2 linked regions of the Homo sapiens genome follow. The protein of the gene in region 1 interacts with the protein of each later gene in a pairwise test. Each region holds a gene or a part of one and is shown in the gene's direction. Other genes may lie near its edges. The genes, in order: ILKAP and MUSK.

Evidence for each region.
Region 2: the proteins of ILKAP (region 1) and MUSK interact in a two-hybrid assay, tested with the Homo sapiens proteins (one study listed by BioGRID and IntAct).

The regions. Positions count from the first base shown.
Region 1 is NC_000002.12:238,179,128-238,186,972, reverse strand, and holds part of ILKAP (integrin-linked kinase-associated serine/threonine phosphatase 2C), read left to right. Parts: intron 1-1,685; coding exon 1,686-1,792; intron 1,793-2,859; coding exon 2,860-2,953; intron 2,954-3,232; coding exon 3,233-3,320; intron 3,321-4,786; coding exon 4,787-4,908; intron 4,909-7,845. UniProt on the Homo sapiens protein: Protein phosphatase that may play a role in regulation of cell cycle progression via dephosphorylation of its substrates whose appropriate phosphorylation states might be crucial for cell proliferation.
Region 2 is NC_000009.12:110,797,519-110,805,363, forward strand, and holds part of MUSK (muscle, skeletal receptor tyrosine-protein kinase isoform 1 precursor), read left to right. Parts: intron 1-2,787; coding exon 2,788-3,470; 3' UTR 3,471-7,845.

The DNA.
Region 1 (7,845 bases):
GCCTGGGATTTGCATTAAAACCAGGAAAGGGACCTCTGGAGCCCAAGAAGGCAGATCCATTGAGTGTAAATTTAATTGGGAACACTACATCATGCCTTGCAAATAACAGGCAGTAAGAACAGCTCTGAGTTATAAACCAGATGAGGTTTTTTTTCTCATGGCTCAGGATGTCCTAAATTGAAAAGGAATTCCAAAAAACTTGAAAGAAAAGCAGCTCTCTAGAATAAATGTCATTTCTCGTGGGCATTTTTGTTTTTTTTTTTTCCTTGAAATAGTTTATTTGATGTCTTTTATTCCATATATGTGGGTTTTCTGGCAAAATTTGAAAGGGGAATGGGAATAAGAGTAGTAAGATAGGTTTTAAAAATGAGATATTTAAAATTTATTTGAGTAACAATTCTGTAATATCCTCCCTGCTCTTATGCAGTCATGTGCTGAATAACAACATCAAGTCAGTGATGGACTGCATATATGACGGTGCTCCCATAAGATTACAAATTTTGTAGAGATGGGGGTCTCGCTATGTTGCCCAGGCTGGTCTTGAACTCCTGGCCTCAAGTGATCCTCCTGCCTTGGCCACCTCCCGAAGTGTTGGGATTAACAGGCGTGAGCTGTCGTGTTCAGCCATAATACCATGTTTACTGTACCTTTTCTATGTTTAGGTATGTTTAAATACACAAATACTACCAGTGTGTTACAACTGCCTATGGTATTTAGTGCAGTAACATGCTGTGCAGTTTAGCCTAGGAGCAATAGGCTCTACCATGTATGTAGCTTAGGTGTGTAGTAAGCTGCGCCGTGTTAGTTTCTGTAAATATGTTCTATGATGTTCACACAACAAAGTCACCTAACAATGCATTTCTGTTAAGTGATGCATGACTGTATTTTTTACTGTTTTCGATAAATAACTTGATCTGTTTGTTAATGTTTAAAACCAAATCCGATTTAAATAGGAACGGAGTTCTGAATTTTAGTTTTGTTGTCAGTGAAAAATCAGAATTAACAGATCTTGATCTTTGAAGCAAATGTGAGTTTTAAACATTTAATGTAAAATACTGGGAAAAGTGTTACATCTCTTTTAGAATATTAGACCTTTAGCAGGTCTTGCAGTCTTCACCAGAAACACTCCCACACCTACACACACACAGTGTTTTTGTTTTTTTTTTTTTTAGACAGAATCTCGCTCTGTCACCCCGGCTGAAGTGCAGTGGTGCGATCTCAGTTCACTGCAAGCTCCGCCTCCTGGGTTCACGCCATTCTCCTGCCTCAGCCTCCCGAGTAGCTGGGACTGTAGGTGCCTGCCACCACGCCCGGCTAATTTTTTTGTATTGTTAGTAGAGATGGGGTTTCACCGTGTTAGCCAGGATGGTCTTGATCTCCTGATCTCGTGATCCGCCTGCCTCGGCCTCCCAAAGCGCTGGGATTACAGGCATGAGCCACCACACCTGGCCCACACACAAGTATTTTTTTTTTAAAAAAAGATAAAATGCTGTGAAAGTTACTTAAATATTTGTCTCAGTTAAAGCCTTTTTTTTCCCATTTGTAACAGTGTGACTGGTGTCTTAACCAGTGTGACTTCCTCTGACTTATTAATGTTCACTCTTTGAGACGAAATTTAAAAGCTTTAATGGAAAAGTGTGGTTTTTGCTGTGAGAATTTGATTAACTCTCAATTCGTTCTTTCAGTACTCGGGTTTCATATTTTGCTGTTTTTGATGGACATGGAGGAATTCGAGCCTCAAAATTTGCTGCACAGAATTTGCATCAAAACTTAATCAGAAAATTTCCTAAAGGTGAGACTGAGAACTAAATCAGTTGATACTCAAATTGGTTATTGCTGTTTGGTTGGCTGTGTGAAGCAGTCAGATGTGTTATTTTGGCTTTAGCAGAGAATCATTGATGAGTCTTAAAAGAGTGGTGCTGAGGAGTGGATGCCAAGGCTTCCAGGAGTAGCGGCCATGCAGGTGTGACTTAGAATGGCACTTCTCATGATTCTAAGTGATAGGCACCTTTTGTCAATCGTCTTTGGGTTCAGTTAGTGTCTTGCCTTTACTGGAAAACTAGTAAACCAACTTCAAATAGCACTGTGTTATATGTGAGGAAAGAAACAGAGATTGTTCTGGCTGGGCACGGTGGCTCACACAGCACTTTGGGAGGCCAAGGCCAGAAGATCACTCAAGCCCAGGAGTTTGAGACCAGCCTGGCAACATAGGGAGACTCTATCTCTATAAAAAAAAAAAACAAACCTAACTGGACATGGTGGTATGTGCCTGTGGTCCCAGCTGCTCAGGAGGCTGTGGTGGGAGGATTTTCTGAGCCCCAGGAGGTTCAGGCTGCAGTGAACCACAGTTGCACCATTGCACTGCAGCCTGGGTGACAGAGTGAGACCCAGTCTCAGAAAAAAAAATTTAAAAAAGGAAAGAAATAGGGATTGTTCTTAATCATGCTTGAAAATCAATTGATGTGCAGAAATTACAAAAACAAAATGGCCAGCCCTGGTGACCCACGCCTGTAATCCCAGCATTTGGGAGGCCGAGGCAGGTGGATCACGAGGTCAGGAGTTCGAGACCAGCCTGGCCAATGTGGTGAAACCCTGTCTCTACTAAAAACACAAAAATTAGCCTGGCATGGTTGCGCGCGCCTGTATTCCCAGCTACTCAGGAGGCTAAGGCAGAAGAATCTCTTGAACCTGGGAGGCGGAGGTTGCAGTGAGCTGAGATCGCGCCACTGCATTCCAGCCTGGTGACAGAACGAGACTCCGTCTCAAAAAAATAAAACAAAAAACAAACCAAAATGACAGTGGGAGGAGGATAATCTTCCCTCCTTGAGAGATTGTTTTCTTTTGGCCCTTCTGTAATAGGAGATGTAATCAGTGTAGAGAAAACCGTGAAGAGATGCCTTTTGGACACTTTCAAGCATACTGATGAAGAGTTCCTTAAACAAGCTTCCAGCCAGTAAGTATAACTTGATGATGAAGTTTGAGTGGACTGTGTGTGGTGTTTTCCTAAATGCATTTCAGTCTTCTGATGTGGTTTAACACTATTGCTCACTGTCTGAAAAGTGCGTAGCACTCAGCTTTTATAACCGTTAGCTAAATCTAAAACAGAAAAAAAGCAAGTATCAAGGAAATGGTTCATTTTGAAATATAAGATACTTCCCATTGAGCTCTGGAAATTAGTCTCAAAGTGCTGGGCTATTGGTGGTGACTGTGTTTCTGATGTGTTTCCCCCCAGGAAGCCTGCCTGGAAAGATGGGTCCACTGCCACGTGTGTTCTGGCTGTAGACAACATTCTTTATATTGCCAACCTCGGAGATAGTCGGGTATGTGGCTCTGGAGCCACCCACTTAGATGACAATACGTTTTATGGGGAAAAGACTTTAGCACGTACTTGTTGAATAAGATTAAAGTGATGGTGTCTGGTTGAAACCTTTCTTCTGGGGTTGCTGCAGAGTGTTCTGCTGCAGTTTAACTTCTGGGTAAGGGAACAGCAACTCAGCTAGAGGCTGTTTGTTCTCTGGGGAACTTACGCCCTATGATAGACTTGTGCTTTAAAACCCAGATCCCGTCTTTTTTGTTTCTTTTTTCCTCCCGTGGTTTGTGTGTGTGATGCTGTGGATCAGAATGTAATCAGTATGCAAGTAGCCTAAATCTTCTTTTATTTCCTTTCTCTGACCTTAGACAGTAATGAATGAAAAGCTTTAACCCCTGCCTATCAAAGTTACTGTGATTTCAGAGTAACTTGAGAGCTGTAGCTAGAAAATACCAGATGAGGTGCCATTCATCACCCGAGCCCGGTCCCTGGCTGAGGGAGAAAGCCCAGGGTGTTGTTCCCCCTGGTGACAGTCGTGGGGATGCTGTAAAGCCTAGAGGGTGCTGCTGCGGAAAGCTGGATGCAGACCCTGCCTCCTCTGCATCAGGACCATGTGTTCCGTTCCGTTGCCGCTTTTTCACCCGGCCTCCTTGCTCCCTAGGCAGTCACAGGAATCAAGTGACTGTCCACACTTAAGCAGCATCTTTAGACCCCTCCCCACGATGCTTCTGGGGGGATGATTCATCAAATACTAAGTGCTAGGGGTATGGCAGAGACTATAACAGATGACAGCCCCTGCCTGGTGGAGTTTACATTCTGGTGGCCCTTTAGTAGACTGGCCTTAGCCCACATGTGTTTAGACCACATGACTTCAGAAATAGCAAGAGGAAAATTGGCAAAAAAACAAAGACAGGAGTCAGACCCAAATTTGAATCCTGGCTCTGCTCTGTGACTTTATTGAGTTACTTATTCTTCGTGCCTCAGTGTCTTCCTGTAAAACAGACACAATGAACCTGGCAGGGGCGAGAACACCTGGAGGCACTGGTGTGGACGGCCTACCTGGCACTCGGCCAGCATGCACAACGCTTGCCCTCCTCTTTGCCTTCCATAGGCTCATGGACATGTCTCTGGCCTTCTAGACTCCAGGCCAAAAGGGACCTTGATACTTGTTGAGTGCTTCCTTTCATGTCACAAATGTGACAACAGCCAGAGTGAGCACTTGTCTGTAGTTATTCAGCAGAGTTTGTACCAGAGTTGATATCAAAACCAGGGGCGACTCTCTCCCTAACTGTTGTGTCTTTGACACTTCTTTGCTGCTTGATTCTCTGAACTTACGTTTATCAGCAGGAGGCTGAATGTGAAACTCCATTGTTAACTGTTTTCTTCAAACTCCATTGTTAACTGTTTTTTTCAACTGGTACCTTTAGATGCTGCGCCCACTGAATTTCATGACTATTACAATCTCCATCTTCCCAGGCAATCTTGTGTCGTTATAATGAGGAGAGTCAAAAACATGCAGCCTTAAGCCTCAGCAAAGAGCATAATCCAACTCAGTATGAAGAGCGGATGAGGATACAGAAGGCTGGAGGAAACGTCAGGTAACCAAGGGACTGAGAGGAGCTCATGGGAAGGAGGGCTGTTAGCTGTAGAAGGGTCCCGAGACCTTCAAGGAGTAGAACTTCCCCTGTTACGTAGTCTTCAGTGTGACGAGGCTCTGTCTGAGATCTAACACTGGTGACATAGGTGGATGACAGTTGTAGATTTCACATGTGTCCACGTGGAAGGAAACTTGCCTCCCTACATTTGCAAAAGGACAAATTCATATTTACCATTCACAGTGTTTTCTCTGTGCCTAGGAAGTTTCTTAAATACTGTCACTTTTCGTGGTGGCGGGCGCCTGTAGTCCCAGCTACTCGGGAGGCTGAGGCAGGAGAATGGCGTGAACCTGGGAGGCGGAGCTTGCAGTGAGCCAAGATCGCACCACTGCACTCCAGCCTGGGCAACAGAGCGAGACTCCATCTCAAAAAAAAAAAAAAACCAAAAAAAAAACCTGTCACTTTTCACATTGAATAAGTTACAGTTTTAGGTGAATTCTCCAGAGAGAAAATCTGAAGTAGTTAAGACGGGTTAAGTAATGTCTTTGGACTTCTTGGGAACAACTGGCACAGAGGACCATGTCTTACTTGGCTCTGTCTTTTGCAGTTTCATTTCACTCTCTCTTTAAATCTTTGAAAACCATATGTCTGCTCTGGTTTTATTATCTGCTTCTATCCAAGGCAGCTAAAGGAGGGCATAAGTCTTTTCTTTAGAATTCCACTTCAAGGACATTGCATTATGAATTAGACCAGGAGTATTTTCTGGTTTGTTGTACAGTTTGACTATTAAAATTTTATTTTCTGCCAGAGATAAGAGAGATGTCATCTCTTAGTATAAGACTGCACTTACCTATCCTTTGAAGTGTAGTTTCTCTTCTGTTGTTCATTTGGGGAAGCCTTTTTTATTGCTCCAGGCTGAATCTAGTCAGTGGTACAGGGAGGTTTCTGGAGAGTAGTTGGAACCCTTAGCGTTTGTTCAAAAAGCTCTTGGATTAGTAAGAAGCAGTTTCATTCACGGTCGCTGCAGTTTACATGAGCAGTGATGGGATTATAGGCCTGGTTTCAGGCCTCAAGCAGTGCTGTTGGCCCAGTTTTTGCCACCGTAACTACTGTCCTGGTAACTACTGTGGACAGTCATGCCTGAGAATGTGACTCTAACATGAGCGTAAGCATCACCTCTTCTCCCCTTTCTTGTAAGTTTTACATTCATTCTGCTTTTGCCTGAACTCCTTGAAAATAATTGGATACTGACAGTCCGATGGCTGAAAGTAAGGCCAGTTGTGTTGCAGTTGCTTCCTATATCCCAGTCCTTACCTGATTCAGAGAAGTGTTTACATGCCTTAGAGAAATCATTTGACAGTGTGGGTTTTGGGTGACTCCTTCATCTCAGAGAAGGGCTGAGGCTAAGAGACCAGCAGCGTGGGTCGCTGCCCCTGAGCAGCAGAGCCCTGTCGTGGTCTGTTCTCCTGCCTGAGGCCAGGGCTGGCTGCCCCACTCTCAGCTTTTATCATTAAATTTTTCAGACATACAGAAGAAACTTGACAATAGTAAAACATTTCCAAATCTACTAGCAGTGAACATTGTGTCATGTTTAGTCTGTATAGATGTGTGTCAGGCTGAGCTGTTTAAAAGTTGCAGATATGATGACATAACAGCCTAAATACTTAAGCATGCATCTCCTGAAGATAAGGACGTTCTTGACATAATTAGTGAGAATTTTCACACCTAAGACAATAATATTTCCTTAGGTTAAGTTATCTAATACCCTGTCTATATTTTTATTTCCCGAGTTATCCCCAAAGTATCTTTGTTTCAAACCAGGGTCTAGTCAGCATCCATGTCTGCCGTGGACTTGGCATTTCTTTTTCTTTTTCTTTTTCTTTCTTTCTTTTTTTTTTTTGAGAGAGAGAATCTTGATCTGTTGCCTGGAGTGCAGTGGCACGATCACAGCTCACCGCAGCCTTGACCTCTGAGGTTGAAGCGATCCTCCAGCCTCAGCCTCCCAAGTAGCTGGGACCACAGGCATGTGCCACTGTGCCTGGCTATTTTTTTATTTTTTGGTAGAGACAGGGTCTCTGTCTGTGTTTTCCAGGCTGAGCTAAGTGATCCTTCTGCCTTGGCCTCCCAGAGTGCAGGGAATACAGGTGTGAGCCACTGCACCCTGCCGAGACTCATTTCTTACCAGGCTTTGAACCATGTTATAGGCCAGCAGTTGTACAGAGTCACCAATATTCTGAACCTGCGTATTTTTTTACGGTGTTATTTCTGTATATTTCCTATAAACTGGAAGTTAGGTGTAAGACCTTCTTTAGATTCAGATGAGATGTTTTTAGCAATGTTTTATGGGGGATGCTGTATACTCAGTAGTCCTTCACTTCAGTAGGCACATAATGTGACCCTTAATTAAGTTGCCAAATCCCAGCACTTGGCTCCGGTGGTGACAGCCGGATGCTCCTGTTGCCTTGCGTCATCAGCAGGTAATCTGGGGAGGTTCACTGGTACCTTGTGAATATTCTGTTTCCTGTCAGCCTTTCACCTAATGGTCTTAGCATCCCTAAATCATTATTTCATCAGGGATGTCAAAGATGATTTCCATATTCTGTGATTCTTTTCACATGTATTAGCGGGCATTCTGTAAAGAAACTTCTTATCATCAATAAGAGAACATCATAGATTCTTCTAAAAAAGCAGGGTCAATGTTTCATTCTGTCCTTTATCCATTTGAAAGGAAGATAGTCACCTATAGTTGTGGAAATCAGTGTTTTCCTTTCACTCCTCTGCTTCTTTCCCTCCATCCTTCCTTTGTGAATCACTGTGTGCCAACTGACTATTCATTGTGTTGTAGTCACAGTCATGGGGTTTTCTGCTGCTCACTTGATTTCAGATATGGCCAGTGGAAACTCCTGCTGGCTGGTTCCTGTGTCCTTTTCATATGTGTGT
Region 2 (7,845 bases), on another chromosome or scaffold:
GTCAGGATATTGGAAGGAATCTAGATAAATATTAAAAGCAAGAATTTCTATAGTAGTATCTCGAATAGTTTCTGGCACATTGTAGGCACTCTATAAATATTTGTTCAATAAATGAATAAACGATATTAAGTACATAACAATTCATCTTGAAAACACTTCTTCCATTTCCTCAACTCCTAAACATTCATTTATTCATTCTTCATCACACAAAAATCTGAATCTGGCTTCTGCCCCCTACCCTCCTTATTTACTTTCTCAAATAGTATACATTTAGTCATTAAACAAACATACATACATGCATATTTTCAAGATTATCAAGCAATTCCTGTTTCAACTTTTCTTAAAATGTTGACTCTGTATTCGTATACAGTTTATAACATCCTGAATTCCTGAAATTGATTCAAACAGAAACTATGTACAGTTTTCCAATTTAACCACAGTAGCATGCTTATACATCACTACTTGGAGTTTTCTCTCATTTTTATTGTCCAACAAGAACTGAAACTTATGTTGCCGTTTGTTAAATGCTATATCTAAATTCCATTTGGATATCCAATGAACACAGGTTCTATTTTTTATCAAGTATACATAAGCAGTAATCATTCATGCAAGTGATTCCACTACTCTCATAGTTTCTTGTAAGTTAATCCCAGTGAAATAAGATGACAATAGTGGAAGAAAGGGGAATTGGGAAAATCCATAAAATTCACTTCTATCAATAAAAGAAATCTACTTTGTTTTATATATTTGATACATCAGCCACTTATTGAACATGTTCGTATCTTAAAAATTGTTTCCCTTTTATTGAAATCCTAGTGGATAATGGTTTTGTAGTCATAAATTGGGAAAAATGGTATAACTAAAGAAATATGCAGAATTTTAGAATGGGAGTAGGCATTGAATATTATAGACTCTTACGGAATATTCTGGCAGTGGAGCAAACAGTAGAACAATCAGGTGAGATTATTCATTGAAGATGTCATGCTAAAGTTTAAAGACATGGCTTGGGCTAGGCATGAGGTTTTCTTATGCCCATCCATCTATGCATCCATCCTTAAATCTATCCATGCATCCACCTATGCATTAATTCATCCATCCACCCATCAACATATATTGAAAACCCATAGTGAGCCATGTGTAGTATTAGACCTGAGGTTACAAGGATGAATAAAATACAGTCTTCCTCTCAATAATTATTATATTTTGAAGTCCCACCTAAGAGTTGGGTTGGAGTAATTACAATATAGAAAACATTTTGAGGTCTTAAATAAATGTATATACATATATAATTGTAAATTATATCTATACACATGTATATATAATTGTTCATAATAATCACAAAGTAGAAATCTTTTGTATAGTATTTTCTTTATCAGAGTGGAAAATTTCATTAAATCAATTTAGTTCAAAACTTTATTTCTCAGAGAAATATTTTGTCATTTTTTTCCAGTATAAGAAATTATTTTTAAATCAACTCAACCAGCATAACAATGGTAAAGCCAGTTGATGAGATAGGTAAGTCCCTGTTAACTAAAGATTATCCAAAAAGGATCCCACAGAAGAAACTTCTAAGTATTATCCAGTTGGTATTTCTTTATTTTTTCCCTTTAGTTTACAGAAATGTGCTAATTGAGGTCCTTGGAATTAAAAATTAATGCCAAAATAAATAAGCCAAGATAGCAGTATTCCTCATTTCTCCTCTTTTTCAAACAGATACTTTTAACTTTTGCCTGAAAAAACCCAATAGATCTAATAATCTATTTTTAAGATGATGTGAAATTATGCCCATCTTATCTAATATTCCAAGTTCTCCAGTTTCCCTCTCAAATATATCAAGACTTTAAGATTTGAAAATGATCTTCTGGCTTTAAATCTAAGACTTTATTTATATTAACTTTTTTGGTAGCATGAACATTGTAAAACCTAAATTTCAAAATGTTTTACTGCAGCAACTTAAATACTTCATCTAAGACACTTGAATTGTATTTGTTATTGTTTCCAAACTTGATACATCTTTCTTATTAACATCCTTCATAGAAGTAAACAGAAACAGACAGCAATTACATTACATACTCAGAGCAAGCATCCATTCATAAATTAACTCACCAAACATTATGAGGCATCTGCTCTGCCAGACACGTGGTAGGTGTGGGGAATTTTTAAAGAAGAATAAGGTTCAATCTCTCCTTTCAAAGTGCTAAAACGTTGGGGAGAAACCTCAAATAGTCAAATGATTATAAAATAGGATGGTAGGTTCTCTGTGAAAGGATGACAGTAGGAAAATCTAACAGTTACTGGAAGGATCAGGAGCTGAGGCACCCTAGGGAGAGTGATAAACTGAATCTTAAAGGCAAAGAGGAGATGTTTAGGCAGAGAAATAGGGTCAGGGTTCAACCATGGTGTTGTCAACAAAAAACCAGGGCCTCCAGATTTCAGAGAGAAGAGCCACTCCAGAGAACTGATACACCATGTACTTATATGCACCATGAACTTGATGCACCATGTACGATGTACTTATGACAAGTGCCCAGGACAACAGCGCTCTGCTGGAAGTCCTCAAAAACTTTAGCCAAGGGACAGAAACCCCACTACCCAGAGTGCATTTCCTAGCTGAGACTCCTTTTGTGTTGTGATTAAAAGGATACAAATATTAAAAAACAAACATACGACAACAACAACAAAAAACAGGGCTTCATATGTTCTGACATGGTCGTTTGCTTTTGGAGTGCTCTTTCCATTGTTTCATTGTAGAAACTGAGACTAACAGGGATGGTCTTTTGGTTCCAGGAGTGTGTGCTGTCGGGAAGCCAATGTGCCTGCTCTTTGAATACATGGCCTATGGTGACCTCAATGAGTTCCTCCGCAGCATGTCCCCTCACACCGTGTGCAGCCTCAGTCACAGTGACTTGTCTATGAGGGCTCAGGTCTCCAGCCCTGGGCCCCCACCCCTCTCCTGTGCTGAGCAGCTTTGCATTGCCAGGCAGGTGGCAGCTGGCATGGCTTACCTCTCAGAACGTAAGTTTGTTCACCGAGATTTAGCCACCAGGAACTGCCTGGTGGGCGAGAACATGGTGGTGAAAATTGCCGACTTTGGCCTCTCCAGGAACATCTACTCAGCAGACTACTACAAAGCTAATGAAAACGACGCTATCCCTATCCGTTGGATGCCACCAGAGTCCATTTTTTATAACCGCTACACTACAGAGTCTGATGTGTGGGCCTATGGCGTGGTCCTCTGGGAGATCTTCTCCTATGGCCTGCAGCCCTACTATGGGATGGCCCATGAGGAGGTCATTTACTACGTGCGAGATGGCAACATCCTCTCCTGCCCTGAGAACTGCCCCGTGGAGCTGTACAATCTCATGCGTCTATGTTGGAGCAAGCTGCCTGCAGACAGACCCAGTTTCACCAGTATTCACCGAATTCTGGAACGCATGTGTGAGAGGGCAGAGGGAACTGTGAGTGTCTAAGGTTGAAGACGTTCAAATAAAATGCTGCAGTTTCCTCTCAGACTCTGTGAGCCAGGGGAATCCTACACCAGAGGCCCAACAAGACCCACATAGGAAAGAGTAAGAGTAAACATGAGTAGTGTGTTGTTTGCTTCCCAGGGAGAGCAAAGACAGTGCAAAACCCATGTGGTAGACGGACCCATTGAAAGCCAGTGATTGGAAACACAGGCTAGGAAATGTGTCAGATAATGGAGACAACTATTCTTCTTCATGAAGGTTTGTAATACACACTGCACAGGGAAGAATGTCATCCTGTTCAGTTTCCAAAGTAGCTGGTCACAGAGTAAAGCTCTGCTGTATTAAATTTTAATATGAAATGGGATTCAGAGCTTCATTTTTTAATTGAGTTAATTCCTGTCCATTGTGAAAGTAGCTTAATCGTCATGTAAGACACTTAGGTGAAGTACAGAAAACTAAAAAGAAGGAAAAGCCACTCATTCTGTCTCCCCCCAAAGACGAGTCTTAGTGTTTTATTAAATCTTTCTTGCATTTAATGCATAATTTTATATTTGTTTGTATTCTGCAGAGTTGTGGTTACATTTTATTGATAGAGGGTTTCTAAGGAATGAAACAGCAAATCAGCAAGCCTGTAACTCTGAGTTCCCTTTTCTGTCCTGTGCCCCTCCTTTTTTCCTTTCTGTGCATTTGTCATGAATTAAGTCTGCTTATTTTATTCCTCCAGTTTTCTTGAAACAAGTTTTTGTATCTTACTGATTTACCTTTTCCTTTAAAAATTGTATTGGTATCTTTTCCATTGCTTTAATCTTTATTTCTTCTTCTTTCCAGGACTTCTGTCCTTTTTTAGTTATTAAGCTATTTTTTTCTTTTATTTCATTCATGTAATAAACACTCTGGCAGAAATAATAACATTTTAAATACCATTGTAGATTGATATGTATATGCCTTTTGCAAAGTATTACTATTTTTCCTGCATTTGCCTTTGAAGCCACACATTTCAACATTCTCACCTATTAATATTATTACTAGAGTCTATTTAAATCTCTTAAACCATAATTTATAATATGAGATTTCACAAGATACACTTGTGGCTCTGAGTTATTTCAAAACTGATATTTCTGTGCATTCTGACATTTTATTCCTTTTAGAAACAAATTCAGTTGGCTGTAGAATTAATATCGTTCTGCTTAACAACTTTGTGCATGACATATTAACTGATTTTGTTGTATTTCATGATTTAAAAAAAAAAGCAGCAGCTCTGGAACTCAGATTCCTGGGGGTTCAGATTTTTTCTCAGTGGATCCTCACACAATACATCTTTATCTAAGTCCATACATGATCTGAGTTTATTTCTGATATAGCAGGAACCCAAATTCTCCTGAAAACGAACAGGGAAGAGAAAATAACAGTCTACTCTATACCAGCTTATCTTAATTCAGACTAATTGGTAGTTAGGGCATTGGAGGAATGGTGTGAATTCTTGAAAGTAGATTTTCGCTGTCTGCTGGAAAACTCTGCCTGAAATCCCCAAATCTGCCTCATGTAACAGCTTGACATCTTTGGTGGGAAACCTGCCATTTCTTATTCATAGTGTCTCCAGGCAACCAAGACAAAAATGTAGAAATTTTCCTAGACTTTGCCCTCTCTTTCATCATCAGTTTTCTATTAGTTTTACTTCCTAAAATCCTCCTGCTGACATCCTCTTCCCTTCAACCCAAGAGCCAATGACTCAACCTCTACCGTTGCCCACCCTGTCTATTAGCTGGCCTTCCTCTCATTTCAGACCTGAACAGATTCTGTAGGATACAACGACAGTAAGGCGGTCCTTAGTCACAGTTCTGGTTCATAAATAGCGAGGTCAGCATTTAGGACTGAGACCTAAAGAAGTGCTTCAGATAAAAATCATGAGTCTAAGTCCAAAATTGATACTGTAATCCAAATGACTGAATAAAGAATAAAGTTGCAGCGTGTGTCTAAAGCAGAAAGTCAAGATGCCAACAAAGCAGAAAAGTTGGAGAGGGCCACCAGCAAGTCTAGAACTTGAGCATAGATATCCATGGCTTATTTTAGATGGTTCATGTATGCTCTGCAAAATTCAAAGACAGCTTCGGGCTTTCTCCGCTGATAAAGTTTTGTTGTAAAAGACAGACATAGAAGTCAGGCTGACAGAAAATAGAGTAACAGTAATCATAAAAATTATAATATCAGCTAGCATTTATTGAAATCTTACCATGTGTATTCTGAGGCCTTTAAATATATGAACTTAAACCTCACAACATCCCTGTAATGTTGGTACTATCATTATATACATTTTAGTTTTGCTTTGTTTTGTTTTGTTTTTGAGACGGAGTCTCGCTCTGTCGCCCAGGCTGGAGTGCAGTGGCACGATCTTGGCTCACTGCAAGCTCAGCCTCCAACAGTCACAGAGAGATTGTGCAACTGGCCCGAGTGCACACAGCAACAGAGCCTACTTTTTGACCAAAAGAGGCCGAATTCTCAACCACTATACTGTAGAGCCTCTGTACATGATAGAAGCAATAACTGAACCTCAGTAACTCTGTGGAAGTGATTTGTAATTTGCATGTCGTTTCAAGCACACTCTATATCTATATTTTATTCTATTAACTTCCTAAGTCTTTTTAATGAATAGCAAAAAAAGTATATTTCAGCATTATCAATTTAAGTTAATCATAACATCTAATAGGTGACATGTTTATTTTTTCATGAGTTCTAATTACATTTTCAAGTTAAGATCACTGACTTATTCCCTAAGTGCTCGATCTAATGTTCTGAATCACAGGAGTATAGATGCATTATTCACCAATATTGTTTACTTTTTTAAATAAGATTTTTTTTCATGGTAGAATCATCATATACATTCAAAAAGGTAGACAAAAGAGAGACACTCACAGTGTCACTGTTACCAAGTGCCAGGACAGATATCAGTAAGGCACCAGCAGTCATTTTTAGTGATCAAATACCAAACATGGTAAGATACCAGAGTATTTTTCACATGACACCCAAAAACATATTCTCTGCTATCGTGGTAGAGCAGAAAAAGAACACTTTCTTTTCATTTTACAGTATATTACGAACCTGTTCCACGTCATTAAATATTCTTCTAAAAACCCAATTTTGGAATAATATTCTATTTTATTCATATACTGTAATTTAGCTAATCAATCTTGTATTTTTGAACATTTAGGTTTTTTCCAATTTTTATCATTATAAAAAATGCTGTAATTAACATCCTTATTTGTTCATGTCCACATTTCTTTTTATGAAAATTCAGAGAAAGGAAATGTCTGGACCAAATGGCATGTACAATATTAACACTTCTGTTATGTGGTTTCATATTCTGCAGAAATATTACTGCCACTTCTACATTGTACAAGAGATCTCATAGCCCTAAACATTTGCTTTCATAGATAATTTTCTGTTTTTTAGAAATCTTTTGTCTCTTTGGTTATAGAAAAAGAGAACCTCTTTTTAATTTTATTTTTTAAATTACTAGTCAGGTTGAATGTTTCTTGTTCCTAGGTCATTAACAGTTTTTATTTTGGCAATTGTCTACAGCCCATTTTTCTGCTGTGTTCATTTTCTAATCGAATTATGGGATTTATCTTGTAAAAAGCCTATTAAGCCTTTTTCATACTTTACACAAGAGATCACATCTACTTACTTTACCTTAAAATAACATTTACTTATTTTCTTATAAAAGTAATATATTATGTTTGAAAAGAAAAATAATATGCAATAATATACAATAATATGTATAATCATAATAGACAATAATAAAAATGAAAAAACACCAACCAGAGGTAATTAACATTAACATCATAATATTCTTCCAGGCTTTTTCAGATAGACAGGTAGGTAAGTAGGTTGGTAGGTAAATAGATAGATAGATGATACATAGAGAGAGATAGATAGATAATTTAAACAAAAATAAGATCATACTGCTACATTACTTCAAGCCTTGCTTTTATCACTTAATATATCTTAAACATCTTCTACATGAACAAGTATTCATGTGCAACATTAATTTTGATGGTTGAATAGTATTATACAGATTTATCGTAATTGACATAACTATTCTACTGTTAGACATTTGGTTTATTTCTATTTTTCCATTATAAAATGTAATGTTTGGATCATCCTGTTGCTAAATTTTGTAAGCATTTATCTTAAGTGATTTCTTTAGCTATAACTCCTAGAAGTGAAATTTCTAGATTAAAGGATAAATGCACTTTTAATACTTTTTAAATATATTAAAAAATTACCTTCCTGAATTATTTTATTAACATGTACCTCTCCTAGTCAGATAAGACAGCCCATTTATTTCAGTCTCACCAATACTGAGTATAGCATTTTAATC